2 separate regions of the Homo sapiens genome follow, and region 1 is linked to region 2. The links come from fine-mapping of genetic effects on gene expression. A gene starts in region 2. The other region holds a variant in brackets. All regions are shown on one strand. Distances are between the middles of the regions. Region 1 holds the start of LGALS3BP (galectin 3 binding protein). Region 2 holds the start of CANT1 (calcium activated nucleotidase 1).

Region 1 (10,127 bases), 26 kb after region 2:
CTGCAGTGGCACTATCTCGGCTCACTGCAAGCTCCGCCTCCCGGGTTCACGCCATTCTCCTGCCTCAGCCTCACGAGTAGCTGGGACTACAGGCTCCCGCCACCGTGCCCGGCAAATTTTTTGTATTTTTAGTAGAGACGGGGTTTCACCATGTTAGCCAGTTTGGTCTCGATCTCCTGACCTTGTGATCTGCCCGCCTCGGCCTCCCAAAGTGCTGGGATTACAGGTGTGAGCCACCGCGCCCGGCCCACGGTACACTTTAAATTGATAAATCTCAAGGTAAGTTATCCCTTCATGCTGTTAAAAGAGTTAAAGCAAAAATAAAATACCGTCACACTGTGAAAACCCCTGGCCCAGATGGCTTCACTTTTGAATTGTACCAAACATGTAAGGGAGAAATAATACGAAAGCAACACAAAATCTTCCATGATTCTGGGAGTTGGGAAACTTTTCCAACTCATTTTATGAGGGCACCACTATACTGATACCAAAACCAGAAAAATACATTACAAAAAAAAAAAATACAGACCAGTATCCCTCATGAACATAGATGTAAAAATCCTGGCCAGGAGCAGTGGCTCACGCCTGTAATCCCAGCACTTTGGGAGGCCGAGGCGGGTAGATCACGAGGTCAGGAGATTGAGAGCATCCTGGCTAACACAGTGAAACCCCATCTCTACTAAAAAATACAAAAAAGTTAGCCGGGCACAGTGGCGGGCACCTGTAGTCCCAGCTACTCGGGAGGCTGAGGCAGGAGAATGGCATGAACCCAGGAGGCAGAGCTTACAGTGAGTCGAGATCGCGCCACTGCACTCCAGCCTGGGTGACAGAGCGAGACTCCGTCTCAAAAAAAAAAAATAAATAAAAATAAAAAATAAAAAAAGAATCCTTAGCACAGATTAGCAAGCCAAATTCAGCAATAATCAAAAATTAGAATGTTACCGGAAAGGGGTCTGATTCAGGTCACCAAGAGAGGGTTCTTGGAGCTCACACAAGAAATAATTCTGGGCACGTCCATAGAGTAAAGTGACAGCAAGTTTATTAAGAAAGTAGGCCAGGTGCGGTGGCTCACGCCTGTAATCCCAACACTTTGGGAGGCTGAGGCAGGCAAATCACGAGATCAGGAGTTGGAGACCAGCCTGACCACATGGTGAAACCCCATCTCTACTAAAAATATAAAAATCAGCTGGGCGTGGCGGTGCATGTCTGTAATCCCAGCTACTCAGGAGGCTGAGGCAGGAGAATCGCTTGAACCTGGGAGATGGAGGTTACAGTGAGCCGAGATCGCGCCACTGCACTCCAGCCTGTGCGATGGAGTGAGACTCCATCTCAAAAAAAAAAGTAAAGGAATAAAGAATAGCAACTCTAAAGGCAGAGTAGCTCCAGGGCTGCTGACTGTCCCTTTTTATGGTTATTTCTTGAGGATATGCTAAACAAGGGGTGGATTCTTCATGCCTCCCGTTTTTAGACCATAGAGGGTAACTTCCTCATGTTGCCATGGCATTTATCATGGTGCTTGCAGGAGCATAGCAGTGAGGACAGCCAGAGGTCACTCTCATCGCCGCTTGATTTTGGTGGGTTTTAGCCGGCTTTACTGCAGCCTGTTTTGTTGTTGTTGTTGTTTTTGAGATGGAGTCTCATTCTGTTGCCCAGGCTGGAGTGCAGTGGCACAATCTCAGCGCACTGCATCCTCCGACTCCCAGGTTCAAGCGATTCTCCTGCCTCAGCCTCCCGAGTAGCTGGGATTACAGTCGTGCGCCACAACACCCTGCTAATTTGTATATTTTTAGTAGAGATGGGGTTTCACCATGTTGGCCAGGCTGGTCTCAAACTCCTGACTTCGCGATTCGCCTGCCTCGGCCTCCCAAAGTGCTGGGATTACAGGTGTGAGCCACTGCGCCCGGCCAGCCTGTTTTATCAGCAAGGTATGACCTGTATCTTGTGCCAACCTTCTGTCTCCAGTGACTAAGAATGCCTTAACCTCCTGGGAATGCAGCCCAGCAGGTCTCAGCCGTAATTTACCCAGACCTGGTTCAAGATGGAGTGGCTCTGGTTCAAACGTCTCTGACAAGAATACTTCACGATAGGTGTGGTTTATTCTAGGAATACAGGGTTAGTTCAGTATTCTGAAATCAATCAATGAAATTCATATGAAGACTAAAAAGGGGCAGGGTGTGGTGGCTCATGCCTGTAATCCCAGCACTTTGGGAGGCTGAGGTGGGCATTTGAGGTCAGGAGTTCGAGACCAGCCTGGCCAACATGGTGAAACCCCGTCTCTACTAAAAACACGAAAAATTAGCTGGGGGTGGTGGGGCGCACCTATAGTCCCAGCTACTTGGGAGGCTGAGGCAGGAGAATCGCTTGAACCTGAGAGGCGGAGGTTGCAGTGAACCGACATCATCCCATTGCTCTCCAGCCTGGGCGACAGAGCGAGACTCCATCTCAAAAAAAAAAAAAAAAAAAAAAAAGACTAAAAAGGGGGAAAAGCATGATAATCTCAAAAGATAGAGAAAAAGCATTTGACAGAATCTAACAGCCATTCACCCAATCCAATTCTAAACAAAAAGCCAAAAAACCCGTTAGGGAACATCCTTAACCCGATGAAGGGCTCCGGTGAGAAGTCCACAGCTAAGCTCCTACTTCACGGTCAGACACTGAATGCCTTCCCCCTGAGGAACAACGCAAGAGTGTCTGCTTTCACCACTTTCTTCCCCACCATTTTTTCCTTTGAAATAAAATTTTGAACCACACAGAAGTTGCAAAAATACAGTAGGTCCTATGAAAGGAAAATAAAAACCGCAATGCACCCTTCCAATAGGAAAAAACAGGAAGCTGAGAGCTGAGTCATGCAAGCAGCTGCCTTTCCTCTTGTTCCTAAGCAGAGAGCGACAGAGGAAAGGCTAAAGACCTCGGCAGGTAGCTACTGTGCTCACCTTATCTTATGTGAAGTGCCAATTTACTGAGCACCAGATGAATACACGATTGACTGTTCCCCTGCCTGCTTCTCTTCTCTTGCAACCCGTGGCGGCAGCACTAGGACCGGACCCTCCCACTTCCCCCTCCAGCCTGCTTTTCCCCTTTAAATATGGAAGCCCTCAAAGTCACCTTTGGAGAAAGGCACAGACCACAGACTGTTTCAGCGATTCCGTGTTTTGTCACGTTTTGTTTTGCCTCCCTGGCCTTATCCTTGACCTTGGCAAAATTAACTGGTTGAGAACAGTCTCAGATACTTTTTGGTTCATATCCCCCTTCTGTGGGGGATACATTCCAAGACCCGCAGTGGATGCCTGAAACCATAGATAATGTGGAATTTACTGTTCTACATTCATACCTGCGATAAAGCTTAATTCATAAATTAGGCACAGTAAGAGATTAACAGTAACATAGTAAATAGAACAATTAGAACAATAGTCTAAAATAAGAGTTATGTGCATGTGGTCTCTCTCTAAATATCTTAGTGTACTGTACTCGCCCTTGTGATGAAGAAGGGAAAGAGCAGGATGACACAATATTTCATCCCACTAGGAACAGTATGCAATTTAAAACTTATGAATTATTTCTGGAATCTTCCATTTAATATTTTCAGACCTCAGTTGACCGTGGGTAACTGAAACTGCAGTAAGTGAAACTGCAGATAAGCGGGGCCAGCAGTCGTGTTTCTGTGCAGCATTCATGTGGCTCCCTCCAGTGTACTGATTACCTAAGCACAGTACATTTACCAAACCCAGGAAACTGACATTGCTCTCATCACTTTTATTCCTCATCCTATTGGTGCAAAAGAAAAAAAAAGGAAGTTATTCAGATTTGAAAAGAAGGAATAGAACTATCTTTATTCGCCAGTGACAAGCTTTGACTAGCTAGACAAGCCTAAGAAATCTTCAAAAAATAACTACGAGGCTAGGCATGGTGGCTCACGCCTTTAGTAATCCCAGCACTTTGGGAGGCTCAGGCAAGAGAATCACTTAAGCCCAGGAGTTCAAGACCAGCCTGAGCAACATAGCAAGACCCTGTCTCTACAAAAAAATGTAAAGATTAGCTGGATGTGGTCACGCCTGCCTGTGGTCCCAGCTACATGGGAGGCTGAAGTGGGAGGATCACTTGAGCCCAGGAGATTGGGGCTGCAGTTAGCAGTATTTGTACGACTATACTCCAGCCTGGGTAACAGAGCGAGACTCTGTCTCAAAAAAACCACGAAACTACACATACTAAATTTAATATATTAATATTTAATATATATTAATATGTTAAATTTAATACATTAATATTTAACATATTAATATATTAATTCCACATACAAAATTTAACTTTATTATAACTGCAGTGAACAACTAGAAATTGTAAAATTTTTAAACATTGTCAATTACAGTAGCACCAAAAATCGGGAAATAGTTACGTATAAGTCTAACAAAAGATGTGTGACATCTACATCCTGAAACTACAAAACACTGATGAAAGAAATCAGAGACTCAAAAGAACAAAACAGTATACGTCTTCATGGGTCTACAGACTTGATTTTGAAAAAGAAAAGCAAAGTTGAAGGACTTATACTATCTGGCTTCAAGACTTAATATAATGCTGTAAGTAATCAAAACAGTGTAGTATTGCCATAAGAAAAACAGACACCGACAAGTGAGACAGAATAGGGTCCAGAAATAGACCCTTATGGATGTGGCCCATTGACTTTTGACAAAAGAGCCAGGGTAATTCACCTGAAATACAAAAGACTGTCTTCCCACCATGGTGCTGGGACAACCCTGTGAACCCTGAAAATTTGAGACAGGCCTCAGTTAATTTACTTTATTTTATTTATTTATTTATTTATTTGGGACAGAATCTCTCTCCTGACAGGCTGTAGTGCAGTGGTGTGATCTTGGCTCACTGCAACCTCTACCTCCCAGGTTTAAGTGATTTTCCTGCCTCAGCCTTCCGAGTAGCTGGGATTACAGGTGTGCACCACCACACCCAGCTCATTTTTTATATTTTCGGTATTGATGGGGTTTCACCATGTTGGCCAGGCGGGTCTTGAACTCCTGACCTCAAGTGATCTGCCCTCCTCACCCTCCCAAAGTGCTGGGATTACAGGCGTGAGCCACCGCGCCCAGCCGGGCTCAGTTAATTTAGAGTTTATTTTGCCAAGGTTGAGGACGTGGGCGCCCCTGACACAGCCTCAGGAGGGCCTGGCAGTGTGTGCCCAAGGTGGTCAGGGCACAGCTTGGTTTTATACATTTTAGGGAGATATAAGACATCAATCAACACATGTAAAATGAACATTGGTTCAGTCTGGAAAGGCAGGACAACTCCAAGTGGGGAGGGGGCTTCCAGGTCACAGGTAGATGAGAGACAAATGGATACATTCTTTTTTTTTTCTTTTGACGGAGTCTCTCTCTGTCGCCCTGGCTGGAGTGCAGTGGCGCAATCTCGGCTCACTGCAACCTCTGCCTGCCGGGTGCACACCATTCTCCTGCCTTAAAGTTGAAGTCATTTGTTCCCACAGAGAACAGAGTTGTGAAAGGAAAATATCTTGGGCCCCAAAATCACCAGCTAAAGGGAAAAGTCAAGCTGGGACTGATTAGGGCCATCCTGCCTCCCATTCTATTCAGTCACCCTCTGCTCACCAGGCGTGGTGGCTCACGCCTATAATCCCAGCACTTTGTGGGGCGGAGGTGGGTGGATCACGAGGTCAAGAGATCGAGAACATCCTGGCCAACATGGTGAAACCCCGTCTCTACTTAAAAAAATACAAAAAATTAGCCGGCATGGTGGCGGGCGCCTGTAGTCCCAGCTACTCGGGAGGCTGAGGCAAGAGAATGGCTTGAACCCGGGAGGCGGAGCTTGCAATGAGCCGAGATCGCACCACTGCACTCCAGCCTGGGCGACAGAACGAGACTCTGTCTCAAAAAAAAGAAAAAAAAAAAAAGATAATGAAAAGCAAGCTTTTCATTAAAAATAAAAGTGCAAATCATATATCTGCTACAGGAACAGAATATATATAAAGAACTTACACAACAAACAAGCCAGTTTTCAAACGTGCATAAGATTTGAACAGACGCTTTGCCAAAGAGGATGTGTGAATGACAGAGAAGCATAAAGATGCTCAACATCATTCGTCTTTTTTTTTTTTTT[C/TC]TGTTTTTTTGAGACGGAGTTTCACTCTTGTTGCCCAGGCTGGAGTGCAATGGCACGATCTCGGCTCACTGCAACCTCTGCCTTCCAGGTTCTAGTGATTCTCCTGCCTCAGCCTGCCAAGTAGCTGGGATTACAGGCATGCGCCACCACGCCCGGCTAATTTTTTTGTATTTTTTAGTTGAGATGGGGTTTCTCCATGTTGATCAGGCTAGTCTCAAACTCCTGACCTCAGGTGATCTGCCCACCTCAGCTTCCCAAAGTGCTGGGATTACAGGCGTGAGCCACAGCACCCGGCCTATCATTCGTCATTATAACCACAATGAAACTTCACTACATGCCCACCAGAATGGATGAAATTTAAAGACTGACAATACCAAGTATTGGTGACGATTTAAACCACTGGAACATGAAGAAATTACTAGCAAGAATGCAAAATGTTTCAGCAACTTTGGAAAACAGTTTCTTTTCTTTTTTTTTTTTTTGAGACGGCATCTCGCTCTGTTGCCCAGGCTGGAGTACCGTGGTGTGATCTCGGCTCACTGCAACCTCTGCCTCCTGGGTTCAAGCGATTCTCCTGCCTCAGCCTCCCGAATAGCTGGGATTACAGGCGCCTACCACCATGTTTGGCTAATTTTTGTATTTTTTTGTAGACACGGGGTTTCACCATCTTGACCAGGCTGGTCTTGAACTCCTGACCTCGTGATCTACCCACCTCAGCCTCCTGAAGTGCTGGGTAGTTTCTTAAAAAGGTAAACATATATCTACCATATGACCCAGTAATCCTGCTCCTAGGTATTTACACAAAATAAATACTTATTTTCACACAAAGACTTGTATCCAAATGTTTCCAGCAGCTTTATGCATAATAGTGGAAGATGGAATGACCCAAATGTCCATCAGTGCAAACATGTATTAACAGTGGTGTTCTGTCCATACAGTGGGCCGCCACCCAGCAAAACCAGGAGCCAGTTACTGATTGTTGAGATAGCATGGATGGATCTCAGAAGCACTGTGGTAAGTAAAAGAAGCCACATGCAAAATATTAAATACTGTATGATTCCATTTAGAGGGAATTCTAGGGTCCAGGAGTGGTGCCTCATGCCTGTAATCCCAGCACTTTGGGAGGCAGAGGCAGGCGGATCACCTGAGTTCAGGGGTTCGAGGCCAGCCTGGCCAATGTGGAGAAACCCCTTCTCTACTAAAAATACAAAAATTAGCTGGGCGTGGTGGTGGGCGCACCTGTAATCCCAGCTACTCGGGAGGCCGAGGCAGGAGAATCACTTGGACCTGAGAGGCAGAGATTGCAGTGAGCCGAGATTGTTCCACTGCACTCCAGCCTGGGCAATGGAGGGAGACTGTGTCTTAAAAAAGAAGACAAAATAGAGGGAATTCTAGGAAAGGCAACCAGCAGTGGCAGAAGCTGAGAGGTGGTTGCTGGGAAGGGGCTGGGGGGAGGGGTGGCTGCAGAGGGGCATAAGAGAATTCTTAGGGGTGATTGAAACGCCCTAGGTAATGATTGTTGTCATGATACCATCGCTACACATTTGCCAAAACTTTGCACGTAAATTATATGCCAAGAAAGCCAATTTTTAAAAAGAAGGAAAGGATGGGTTTGAAACCCCAGTTCTTCCCCTACCAGCTGCACAACTTTAGCCGATTACGTCGCCTCACTGAGCCTCTGTTTTCTCATCTGTAACAGGGAATATAAGAGCAGCTGCTTCCCATCATGGCTGGAAGTATTAAATGCATTCATTTGTGGCAAGGCTTATAGTAATGCCTGGCGAAATCCATATTAGCTATTATAGGGAGCGTTCCTCAATTTGCGGAGAGGTTTGGGGTAGAGGCACAAAAGATGACCTTACAGGCCAGTTAACCATTCTCATCTCTGAAATGCCCCGCACTTTCCCTACCATGTCTTGGGAGCGGCTTCCTGATGACAGCAGTTCTGTCCACACGAATCTGAGGCTTTCACCCAGCTGTCTTCTCAGAGCCGAGCCGCTGCCCCTTCCCCTGCCTGTCCCCTGTCAGCGCTTCCCTCCACCCCATGGTCATCGCACACCGGAAAGGCCTTGCGAGCCCCAGGGGAGCAGATGTTGGTGCTCCGATTCCACGAGGAGGCCTCTGGGTTTTCCATTTTACCTGCCTGGATGGCTTAGGACTTTCCCGGACTCTGGGGCTAAAGATTCGGCACCTGAGTTTTAAAACCTTTCCCAGCACTTCCCAGAGATGCCCTCCCGTCCTCTGCACTCCTGTCCTTCCCTGGCCACTTGGGCAGAAGTCATTAGCACTGCTGAGAAGGGATGATGCTGGGGTTTCTGTGCACTCAGGCCCTTAATCCAGATGAGATTTTTTTAAACTCCCCACAGCCAGTTCTATTTCCAGCTGCACCTGCCCCTGGATCTTCACAGTTCCTCTGGAGGGGATTAGGCAAACCGTGCAGCTGCCTAAAACCTCACACCTTGAAGGAAATAGTCATTGAATGTCTGACCTCTGGGCTGGCTGTCTCGGACTCTAAGCTGCCAGGGAACCAGGGCCTTCCACCCAGTGGGACTGCCTGGGGGCTTTTAAATGCCCCTGCCTGTCCCCTACTCCCAGAGATGGTGACTTCCTGGGTCTAGGCATTAGGAGTTTGTAAAACTCCCTGATGATTCTTCTGTCCAGCCCAGGCTGAGAACCACTGGTCAGAGGCCTGGGCACATCCCAAGGCTCATCCAGAACCATGGGGTGCAAGTGACAGAAACAAGAGCGGCTGCTGATTGCCTCACTGAGCGGTGAAGCCCAGCCTTGACCATGGATTAGGCCAGCTGGACCCAGGAGCTCAGGCCGGAGGATGCCTGCTTCCCTCTGCTCTGCCCCACCGGCCCCAGCAGCCTGGGCCCACATCCTCTCAGTCAGAAGCTGGCTCTCACCGGCTGGCTGGGCTCACAGCCCCACCCTGAAACCAGCAGTGTGGCCCGGGGCCCCCGCAGGGCTCAGACAGCCAGGCCTTGGGTGGTTGAAGGCCAAGAGCTGGGGGCCCTCTGGGAACCACACAGCCGGGAATGGGAGGGGGTGCTCCCCAAGGGACAGTTGAGGTGCCGGCTTTCAGTGGGAGGAAAGGGAATGGGTATGAGCTGGACAGAGCCATTATGTCACCCAGAGAGGCTCTGTCCCCCGCCCCGCTGAGGGGGAGACAGTAGGAGAGTGGCCACAGGTCCAGCAGTGGCGAGCACAGGCTCTGGGGTCAGGTGTTGGAGCAGGGTCCAGCTCCTCCACTGGCCAGCTGCATACCTGGTTCTCAGTGCCTCCCTCCCCTGGGGACAGGGGACAGTGCCATGCAACCTTGTGGGGCACAGGCCCTCTGTGTGGTCAGCATGCCAAGAGCACAGAGAGGGTGGATTTGCACATAAGCAGCCCCCTGTGTGGTGTTCACCCAGCCAGCAACGTGCTAGACCCAGGAAAAGACTCGGAGCGCTCTGTCAGAGTCCACAGCCACACCACCAGGTGCAGACTGTCTGGGCCCAGAGCCTCTGCTTCTTCCCCTCCCGTCCACCAAACGCCAGCCCCTGACCAGCCTGGCGGCCTTTCCAACTGAGTGTGGCTGTTAGTCCTCTTGCAGGCCTTGCTCCAGCCAGACTCCCACCTTGGGCCTCTGCCAGCCTGGCACTGATAGCCACAGGCAGAGCTGAGACAAAAGAGAGGGGCCCTGGGGAGTATCAGCAGCAGCCAATCCCGGAAGACATCTATGTCAGGTGGTTTCTGGAAATCGAAAGTAGACTCTTTTCTGAAGCATTTCCTGGGATCAGCCTGACCACGCTCCATACTGGGAGAGGCTTCTGGGTCAAAGGACCAGTCTGCAGAGGGATCCTGTGGCTGGAAGCGAGGAGGCTCCACACGGCCGTTGCAGCTACCGCAGCCAGGTAAGCTCCTGCCTCTAGCTCTCAGGTGGGCACCCCTCTCAGTCTCTCTCTCTTTTTTATTTTTATTTTTTTTGAGACAGGGTCTCACTCTGTCACCCAGGCTGG
Region 2 (10,127 bases):
ATTTCTCCAATTGTGTCCTGTTACAAAAGAAAACAGATTCTTACTGCACTTATGCAAATAACTATTAATATATAGCCATAAGTTAAGAATACTCACAAATAGTTTTCAATTTTTGGAGAAATCAGGTAGAGAGAAAGAAATATGCTCCAAATTTTGTTTACAGGAGTGTATTTTACTCAACTGTTAAAAGCTGTAAAGAGTTCAAAAGAAAAGTTTGGCCGGGCACGGTGGCTCACGCCTGTAATCCCAGCACTTTGGGAGGCCGAGGCGGGCGGATCAAGAGGTAAGGAGATCGAGACCATCCTCACTAACAGGGTGAAACCCTGTCTCTACTAAAAATACAAAAAATTAGCCAGTTGTGGTGGCGGGCTCTTGTAGTCCCAGCTACTTGGGAGGCTGAGGCAGGAGAATGGCATGAACCCGGGAGGCGGAGCTTGCAGTGAGCCGAGATCACGCCACTGCACTCCAGCCTGGGCGACAGAGCGAGACTCCATCTCAAAATAAAAAAAATAAAAAATAAAAAAGTTTGCTCGACTTGGAAAACAAAACAGAAAGGAACAGCAATATTTTATGCAAAAAGTCGTAAAAAGATTATTTCAGTCTTTCATTAGTCTATACAATTAATTTCTGTTTTGCTCAATATTTAAGAACACATTAGCTTTCCAAAAGAGTCTTGGAAGCTTTTTTTTCCTCTCTATTTTAATGGCACACTTTCCAAAGTTATCAGACACTCGCATTTAAGAGTAATTGTCAGCATCCTATAGCTGGTTATAAACCTTCTTTTGAAGAGGATTAAAACAAGACAATAATTGTCTCTGAATGACAAAAAAGTCTTAGGATAGCCACAGTCAAAGATGCAATTGACAAGGAAATTTCATTACTTCTGTAGCATACAATTTTACATAACAATTATAATTATTACTGATAACATACACTAAGTCACCAATAACATACACCTAGGTCATTATAGGAATTTCCCATAATTTTAGAATGCATACCAATAATATATTTATACAAATATGGTCTAAAGAAAGCCAAACACCATTTCATACTTGATAATGCTTCCTGTATGATTTTAATATACCAAATAAGCCAAATAAGTCTCTTTTGGACTTTAGGGTTTTTACCATCTAAAATGATTAATCAGGTCAGAAAAAGACATATTTAGAATCTGATTTTGGAAAGTTCGTCAAATATCAAAAGTTTAAAACACTTGATATTATAACATAAAATTCCAGGTCACTGTAAGTCATTTATTTAGCCAAAATGTTAACTCAACAATTTAAAAAAGGCAAAAGGCTTTACTCATTGATAGAGGGAAGATTTAGCTCTTCAAACAATCTTTTCTTTCCCTTCTTTCTCCTGTAGTTTATTTAAAAGGTAAACAAAAATCTTTCATTATCTTTTAATATTACATGAAAATCTTGTTCAAGAGAGAAAGCCAAATTTCATCTTTGCATGAGTGTACTATTGATGTCAAATTCAATTCCTAGTAAAACTTTACAGACAAATTTTCCTAACTTCAATCAGTTTGACCATAATGTAAGATTTTCATAAAGCTTTTATAACCCTTTACAATTTTTTTTGTTAAAGAGTAGACCAATGCTCTAAGAAAACCCTGTTGTGCTTTTATTCCAATGTTCAATTTATGGAAAAACCAAATAATACTCCTTTAACTTTAGCCAATATGTTAACACAGAGAATTGCTTTTACAAGATTAGACTTTCACAAACCTTCCACGACTTGCTTAGACCTTCCGCTTTCTCCTATCTAAGAACAACTCTTTAAACTTCCAAACCAGGCAAAAACACCCTGCCTTCCCATGCCTTCTTATAATCTTTTACCAAACACACATTATACTTTCCTTACACACTGTGCATGTAAAAGTGTTCCTCCAGTAACCTCAGTTACATATGGTACAATGTTAACTCTTAGCAACTTTTATTTTTGGCGAAAAATTTGGTAAGTGATTTTATTTGTGTACCAGGTGTAGAGCTTGGGGCACCAGACAAAAGTGCAGATAAGGTCTGACCCCTTCCAGCATAGCTAGGGGCATGGCTAACTCCATATGTTCCCAGGCCTTACATAGACGCTAATGGCTCCAAAGAAGGTAAATTGAACAATTATCAAAAGTCAGAGAAGTAGTTTAGTAAACCTAGTATCTGACCTGCCTAATTTAGACCAAATGTCTAAATTTCAAAGACATTTTTATTTTACCAATAATCTTTAAAACTGCCTTGCTTTTCCAAAGATGACTAAAGTCATGTGAACAAAAAGGCATTAGCATTTTAATTTTTCTGGCAAAATATTTTATTTAAGTGCTTATTTTTATTTAAGCCAATTAAATAGAGCTCTTTTATATATTTTGGTTGTAAAACATGACTCACAGGGATGGTACAGACCAAGAGAAAATACCCCTCCATGGTCACAAGTCAAGCTCCCAAGGACATAAAACAAGACGAGGGGGAATCCTCATCCAGTTTTTGTTTCAGTGACCTGAAGCAAAGTTGTCAACTGACCAGTTTGCTGGGCCAGCTTGAATAGTGGGCTTACAGGGGTCCTAGGGCCACATTCTATCCTATGATACCCCTTTTATGACAGAATGACACAGAAAGCCAAATTCATAGCACAAAGTACACCAGATTCATCACAGCCTAAGACTAGCCTCACAAATCCTTTTTCCCATTCATCAAAACCTTGCAGAGGAGACAGTGATTTTTACCATTCACTCAACTGGTTTGCATAGAGAGAGAGAGACCAAAGGCCTGACTGGTAAGAAATTCTTACCCTTTTGCCAGCATGCCAGGTTTCTGGGATCCCTTTCCCTAAGCAGCCCTCGTGACCCTGCTCACAGCACCATAACTGTGGGGGCCAAGCCACATCGCAAAGCAAAAATCACCCTTTTCCATTTCATGGAACCATAGGAAAAGCCTCTCAATTTTGCAAGATGCTACACAACAAGTTGCATGGAGGAATCGAATCAACATTTTCCATTCTGGCCAGAACAAAGTGCACTTGACAAAACACAGACACTAGCCACCCCCCTCAGCACCCAATATCGACCTGGCAAGGCTCAAAACTTCCCCCATTGGCCCCTGTAGTGTTTAATCCATTCAAAGTGGGGGCGGAATGACTGCCAACCAGGAGTTTCAACAGGTGGTTTTTGGGCAAGATGGAAGAGTAGATCATCACCCAGAGTGACAGAGAAGACAGACAAGGGAAAGGCGAGAACGAGAGAGAGGAAAGGGAAGGGAGAAGAGTGTTGCCTGTGGTGGGTTGCAGAGGTGAGGAGCTCACAGAAGCCAGAGAAAGACCCATCCATCACAGTGACACTGAATCAAAAGTTCAGACAGCTGCTTGTCAAAAAGGGATCTTTTCCAGCAGTCCCATCAGCTCTCAAGTTTTCCCCTTTGGGGGAGGAAAAAAAGCTCCCCAGGTCCCATGATCCTGCACATGCCTAATCTTGTCACCCACAGCCATCAGCAAAGAGGGCATGGCAAATTAATCCAAATAGAATGGCGGTTAACATCCTGCAGTGCTGAATCCATTTTTAACCAAGAGGGCTCTTACTAAGGGTGGCCTCTAACATTCTGAAGTTGAGCCTTCAACCCAAGTTTGAACAAGCATTCTTGTTCTTTACAAAGAGGGGCCTCTAACTCCCTGTGTCTTAGGAGGGACTCTAACTCTCCTAATTTGGGCCTCTAACCCAATTCCATCCATTACCCTGGATAAAATACCCCACCATGTACCCAAAGTTGGTCAACTGGTGCTGAAGTCTATTTCCCTTGGGTCAGAGGTCTCTCCAGTGTTGTCCCTTCATGGTTTCTCAGCAAGATGTTATCAGAAAGGGGTTCCAGTCCAGGCCCCAAGAGAGGGTTCTTGGATTTTCCACAAGAAAGAATCTGGGGCAAGTCCGCAGAGTAAAGTGAAAGCAAGTTTATGAAGAAAGTAAAGCAATAAAAGAATGGCTACTCCATGGGCACAGCAGCCACAAGGGCTGCTGGTTGGCTATTTTTATGGTTATTTCTCGCTCATATGATAAACAAGGGGTGGATTATTCATGAGTTTTCTGGGAAAGGGGAGGAGATTTCCTTGGAACTGAGGGTTCTTCCCCGTTAGAACATCTAGGGTAACTTCCTGACGTTGCCATGGCATTTGTAAATCATCATGGTGCTGGTGGGAGTGTCTTTCAGCATGCTAATACATTATAATTAGGGTATAATTAGCAGCAAGGACAGCCAGAGGTCACTTTCATTGCCATCCTGGATTTGGAGGGTTTTGACCAGCTTCTTTACTGCATCCTGTTTCATCAGCAGGGTCTCTGTGACCCGTATCTTGTAACCTCCTATCTCATCCTGTGACTAAGAATGCCTAATTTCCTGGGAATGCAGCCCAGCAGGTCTCATTTACCCAGCCCTTATTCAAGATGGTGTTGCTCTGGTTCGAAGGCCTCTGAGAGAGCCACTGGATCTCTCAATTATTGCATACAGTTTTATTTCATTTTATAAAGGTTAAAATAGACAGAATTAAACAATATATTGTTTAGGGATACATACCTATGTGCTAAAATTATAAAGTAAGGCAACAGAATGATTAACACAACATTCAGTATTGTGGCTACCACCTCTTGGGGGTAGCAGGGAGTACAGAACAGGAAGAACCTGGAGAGTTTTAAAGATGCAGGAATAATGTGTTATTTCTTAAGCTGGAAGGCACATGTGGATCTTTTAGAAAATAAAAGATTCAAATATAATTGTCACATGCGTCCATGTGAAGAGATTCCACCAACGGGCCTTGTGTGAGCAACAAGACTGTTTATTTCACCTGGGTGCAAGTGGGCGGAGTCCGAGAAAGGAGTCAGCAAAGAGTAGTGGGATTATCATTAGTTCTTATAGGTTTGGGATAGGTGGTGGAGTTAGGAGCAATTTTTTGTGGGCAGGGGGTGGATCTCACAAAGTACATTCTCAAGGGTGGGAAAAATATTACAAAGTACCTTCTTAAGGGTGAGGGAATATCACGAAGTACATTATCCTAAGGGTGGGGAGGGTGTATTGTCATAAGGTCAATTGATCAGTGAGGGTGGGGCAGGAACAGATCACAATGGTGGAATGTCATCTTTTGTGGTTCTTCAGTTGCTTCAGGCCATCTGGATGTATATGTGCAGGTCACAGGGGATATGATGGCTTAGCTTGGGCTCAGAGGCCTGACAATAATGAGTATTATGTGAGACATGGTTGGGACTCAGTTTAGCATGACAAGAAACATTAATGAATTCAAGAAAGGTTTGTCTCCTCTCCAAAATCAAAAACCAAAAGTGCATAACAGTGTTTAGCACATTTCTATTTAGTTAAAGGTAATTTAAGATACGTGTTTATGACTTGTTTGGATACCATATAACATCTAGTGATCGCCTCTGGGCAGGGAATACAGAACGGCAATGGGAGGCTTATTTTTCATTGCGTACCATTTATATAATTTGAATTCCTCCTCTTGTGTATCTTTTACTGAACGGAAGGTTTTGAGAGAGCTGGGGGAAGTAGCTGGTATCAAGCAGGAAAGCTGAAGGTGCAGATGGGCAGGGGGCTGGTGCACCCTTCTGCCAAGCTCTCCTGCCAGAGGCTCCACGGCCACCAGGCCTTTCTCAGAACTTTGGGATGGAGGAGGGCGGGGCCGGGGAAGCCTTTTAACAGAGTGCCCTAAAATATCTCGGGGGCTAGGGCTACGGAGGGGAAAGGAGAAATCAGAGACCCTTGTTTGGCAGGTTTGTCAACTGCAGATTTTTTGCAGGGAAACACCCCACCGTCCCCACCCCAGGACACTACAGCCTTAGACCTCCCTGATCCTGGCTTTGGCAACTGGTCAGCAGCACTCTGGAGGCGGCTGTTTTGAAGGGCCAAGGAGAGGGGCTGCCTGAGAATGAGGATGGCAGAAAGGGGCCCACGGTTTTCCGCCTCCCAAGACTACGAGGGTCGGGAGGCCCATGTAAGGGGGCCCTCGCTCGGAGAATGAGAACTTCCCTCCCTAGTAGCCTTCACCCCCCTCAATGCCTCCCACCCCAAAAGATCTGCTGGGCCCACGTTCCAGCGCAACGCGGTGGAAGACGGCCCTCATGTGCCAGTGCGGACCCTCGCGCCCCTCCAGCCTGCAGCCAGCCGGCCGCTCCTCCAGCGCGCAGGCGCAGGACGGAAAAAAAAAACACAAAAAAACAACAAAAAAAAAACCCAAAAAAACACAAACCACAGCTCCCAGCAGCCCTCGCGCCGTCCGCGCGCAGCCGCAGAGCAGAGGCTGCCGGGAACGCGGGCCCAGAGGCGGGGCGAGCGCGCGCGGGGCGGAAGTCGGCCACCTTCCTCCGTCCCGGCCGTTAGCCCAGCCAAGCCCAGCCAAGCCCAGCCAAGCCCCGCCGATCGCGGGCACCGGAGCCAGCCCCGCAGCGGGTGAGTGACTGCGCCCGCGGCCGCCGGCGCCCTGCCCCAGCCACGGGCCCGGACCCCCGTCCCGGAGCCTGCCGCCGCCCTCCGACCCTGCCGCGTCCCGCCCCCTGACCCGTCAGGCCCCCTTCCCGTCCCACCCGTGCGGGATCTCTGCCCCCTGACTCGCAGACTGGGCTGGGACTCTGCCCTCTGACCTGTGGGAAAGTCCCCTTCTTCCGACAGGCGGTGGACACCACCCCCTCTGACTTTTGGGACACCTCATCCCTGGGACTAGCGTGGGGACCATTACCCTCTGGTTAGTGTGGGCACCCCTCCTCTCTAATTAGTGTGGGGACCATTCCCCTCTGATTAGTGTGGGCACCTCCCCCCTCTGATTATGTGACTCCTCCCCGCTCTGATTAGTGTGGGACACCCCCCTTCTAATTAGTTTGGGGACCATCCCCCTCTGATTACTGTGGGGCACCTCCCCGCTCTGATTAGTGTGGGGACCACCCCCCTCTGATTCATGTGGGGCACCTCCCCCTCTGGTTAGTGTGGGGACCATCCCCCTCTGATTAGTGTGGGACGCCTCCCCGCTCTGGCTAGTGTGGGGCACCCCTCCTGGGAATGACCCCCTCCCACCACCTTCTGACTTCAAATACCCCTCCTCTGGTCTATGCAGGGTCTCCTTGGACTGATAAGGGAATTTTCTCCCTCTGACTGGCACTTGGTCAAACCTGTAACAGGCCAACCTTCCCCACCCCATCCCAGTCCTTGCTCTCCCTGCCCTCATCCAATTTGGAGCCTTCCTCCAGGCACACAGCTCACTCTCATCTTCCTGCATGCAAATGATTCGCCCTCCCCACCATACCTGTCTCACACCCCTACTGCCATCCGGTCTGGATTCTCTCATCCTTGGAGACTGGTACCTCCTTGCCAGTCCATGTTGCCTGGTGCCTTTGCTTCTCCCTCCGAATGGTCTTTCCCTTGCCCTCTGTGTACCCTAGGCTTGGCACAGAGCACCTGTGACCACTCTTCCATCAGCAGACACATCTCTCTCCCAAACACCTTTCCCCCTTAGTGACCCCTGGAAAAGCCGTCTCTTAGTGTCCCAGCTCCATTTCTTATTTTATTCTTGAGGTTGTATGCCCTATGGCCTTTCCTACCACATTTTCAACAAAGCAGAGGTTTGGAAATGTGAGGCTCTTGGTGTCAAGTGAATCCGGCTAGCTCTCCAGTGTAAGGGCCCAAACTTGAAACAAGTGTCAGGTCGTAGAAGGCTCCTAAAAGGAAGCGGGTGCCGCAGCCCTTCAGGATCCGCTATCTCCCAGCTCTTCCTCCCTCTCCCTCTGAGGAGCTTTGCTGAGAAAGGTCCCTCCAGGCCTGGACCACAGACCCTCCCTGCAGCCCCACCGCAGGCCTCTCAGCAGGACAGTCTGGCTGGAGCCTGTGGAACGGCAGTGGGGCTCCTCCCAGGTGCTCCTCCCTGCTGGCCTCAATGAGCCCTCTATCCTAGCACACGCCCCTGCTGAAAGGCACACTGAAGGAGCCAACCCTCTCCCCTCTGGACGTGGCAAGGGTTTCCTGTCGGGGCAGCCCCAGGCATCTTCACGGCCAGGACTCAGGTGAAGCATGGATTTGTCCAGGCACTGTCATGAGGCCACCGCAGCAGTGTGGGGACCAACTTCTAGTGTCACTTTTTCATGTCCAAATTAACGTGATCACAAAAGAGAATGACATGTCACAAGGTGGTAGAGGGAACCCTCCACTCGCAGCGGGATAGGACCCCTGGACCCTGGGACACCTCGCTGGAGGGGCACATCTGAGGCTTGACGCTTCTGATTGCCAGAGGTCTCCTTTCTTCCCCTTAGGCTATAACCATATTTTCCTAGCCCATGGCAGCTTAGTAAATGTGTTGGTGTAAAAGCTCTTGGTACTCCAGAACGTTTTCACTCACCCGTCACTGTGCACCTGGTCTGCAGGACCCCCCTGAGCTGCAGAGTACGTGAGGAGACCCAGGGTGTGGTAGCAGCAGTTCTCCTGGCCCTGTGGGTGTTTTTACCCTGCCACCTGGATGTGGCTTTCGAGGTGTGTGTGCCTGTGCAGGCTCCCCCAAGTACATATGGCCCGTCCTCGGAGTCTCGGTACTTTCTGGCAACCGTATAGGTAGATAGGTAGATGTATAAATGCTGTAGTGTTTTCTCTTTCAAAAACAGAAGATCTGAGACTTGGAACTATTGTCCAGGTCCTGAAATGGGTCAGTACTATCACAAGGAGGTCATTTTTCTATTGTTTGTTGAATGGTACCAGGGATGCCAAGGACACACAGCATTCATTCTTTTCACTCAGTGCACTCTGAACTATCGAGATTTCCTGGAAAGCTCTTATGAAATGCCAATATCAAGGGAATTAGAAACTTTTATATTAATTCTTAAGAATGTTCATGTTGATTTTCCTTTTACTTTAATCAAGATGGTTAATTAGGAAAAAATCATCCTGGCAGTAGAGAAGTCTGTTTGGGGAGACGTTCTGTTTTTTGTTTTGGACCCTGCTCGTCTTTGTCATGCGTGCAGTGGTCATGTGGAGCGCCTGGTTCCCAGGCAGGACGCTGCTCCCCGCGTTCCTCTGGGATGGTTTTATGGGAAGTGAAGAAGGCGTTGAAGTCTGGCTTAAGACTTAAGACAGTGCGTGATGCCACCATGTGGGAGTGGGGCAGAGGTGAGACTGGGACCCCCCAGAATGGCTCTGAGGGTGTTGCCGGGTTGAGTGAAAGTCCTGGCGATTCGGCCTTTGTGTCCCGGGAGCCGAGCCTGGAGGAAAGCGTGAGGAGAGAAGGTGGCAGTAAGCAGGTGGGCTCGTGCAGGTGCCACCGCGGTGTGGAAGGCAGCCCTGATCCAGGTCCATGGGGCGATGATCCCATCCCGTTATTTTCACACACTCTGGAAAAGGACACCTTCCCAGATGTGTGGTGCCATTTGGAATGTGCCTTTCAACTGAGAAGGTCGCCTTTTGGCTAAAATTCCTCCAGGTGTAACATCGATGATACAAATTAAGCAGACACAGCCTCTTTACAAGGCAGTAACTGCAAACCGTAGAGGGTTCTGAAGCTGTGCGCCCACACCATAGACAGTGACTGGTCCTGGCCCTTGGAAAAACCTGGAGGCTCTTTCCCCTCTTCCTCCTGTGATTGGTGGAGGAACAGCTCCCCGAGATGTCCACGTCCTACCTTCTGAGCCTGTGAATATGTTACATTACATGGCAAAGGGGAATTAAGGTTGCTGATCAGCCGGCCTTAAAGTAGTGAGATGATCCTGGATTTTCCCAGGGAGCCCAGTGTAATCACAGGGTCCTTAAGAACAGAAGAGGGAAGCAGAAGAGCCGGAGGGAGATGATGGCCAAGAGCCTTGGGGAAGTGCAGTGGGCGGGCTTTGGAGGGGGAGGAGGGGCCACCAGGCAGGGAATGTGGGTGCCTCCAGAAGCTGGAAGAGGCATGAGAATGGAGCCATGGCCCGTGTGAGGCTTCTGTCCCACAGGACGGTGCCTGCTGCCTGCCGTGTGCTGGATACTAGGGGCGGGGACAGGTGCAGAAGTCAGTCAGATCCTGAGCTTGACCTTTAAGGAGCGTGCTGTCTGTGGAGGCAGGATGGCCTAACCAGACTCCCTGTGACCTTCTTCCTTTCTGGTTTCCTTGTACTGCCCACCCCCGAGGAGATT

What was found. PIP is the estimated chance that this variant, and not a neighbour inherited with it, causes the effect.
Region 1: its variant is fine-mapped to the expression of CANT1 in whole blood (INTERVAL, PIP above 0.99).

The regions. Positions count from the first base shown.
Region 1 is chr17:78,979,719-78,989,845 of GRCh38, reverse strand. LGALS3BP (galectin 3 binding protein) reads left to right here and starts at 9,923. Exons shown (of 6, transcript NM_005567.4): 1 at 9,923-10,022. RefSeq lists an enhancer at 8,897-9,889. The variant C/TC (reference allele first, on the strand shown) is at 6,124.
Region 2 is chr17:79,005,974-79,016,100 of GRCh38, reverse strand. It overlaps CANT1 (calcium activated nucleotidase 1), which reads left to right and starts at 6,337. Exons shown (of 5, transcript NM_001159773.2): 1 at 6,337-6,437. RefSeq lists an enhancer at 5,948-5,997 and a silencer at 6,238-6,617.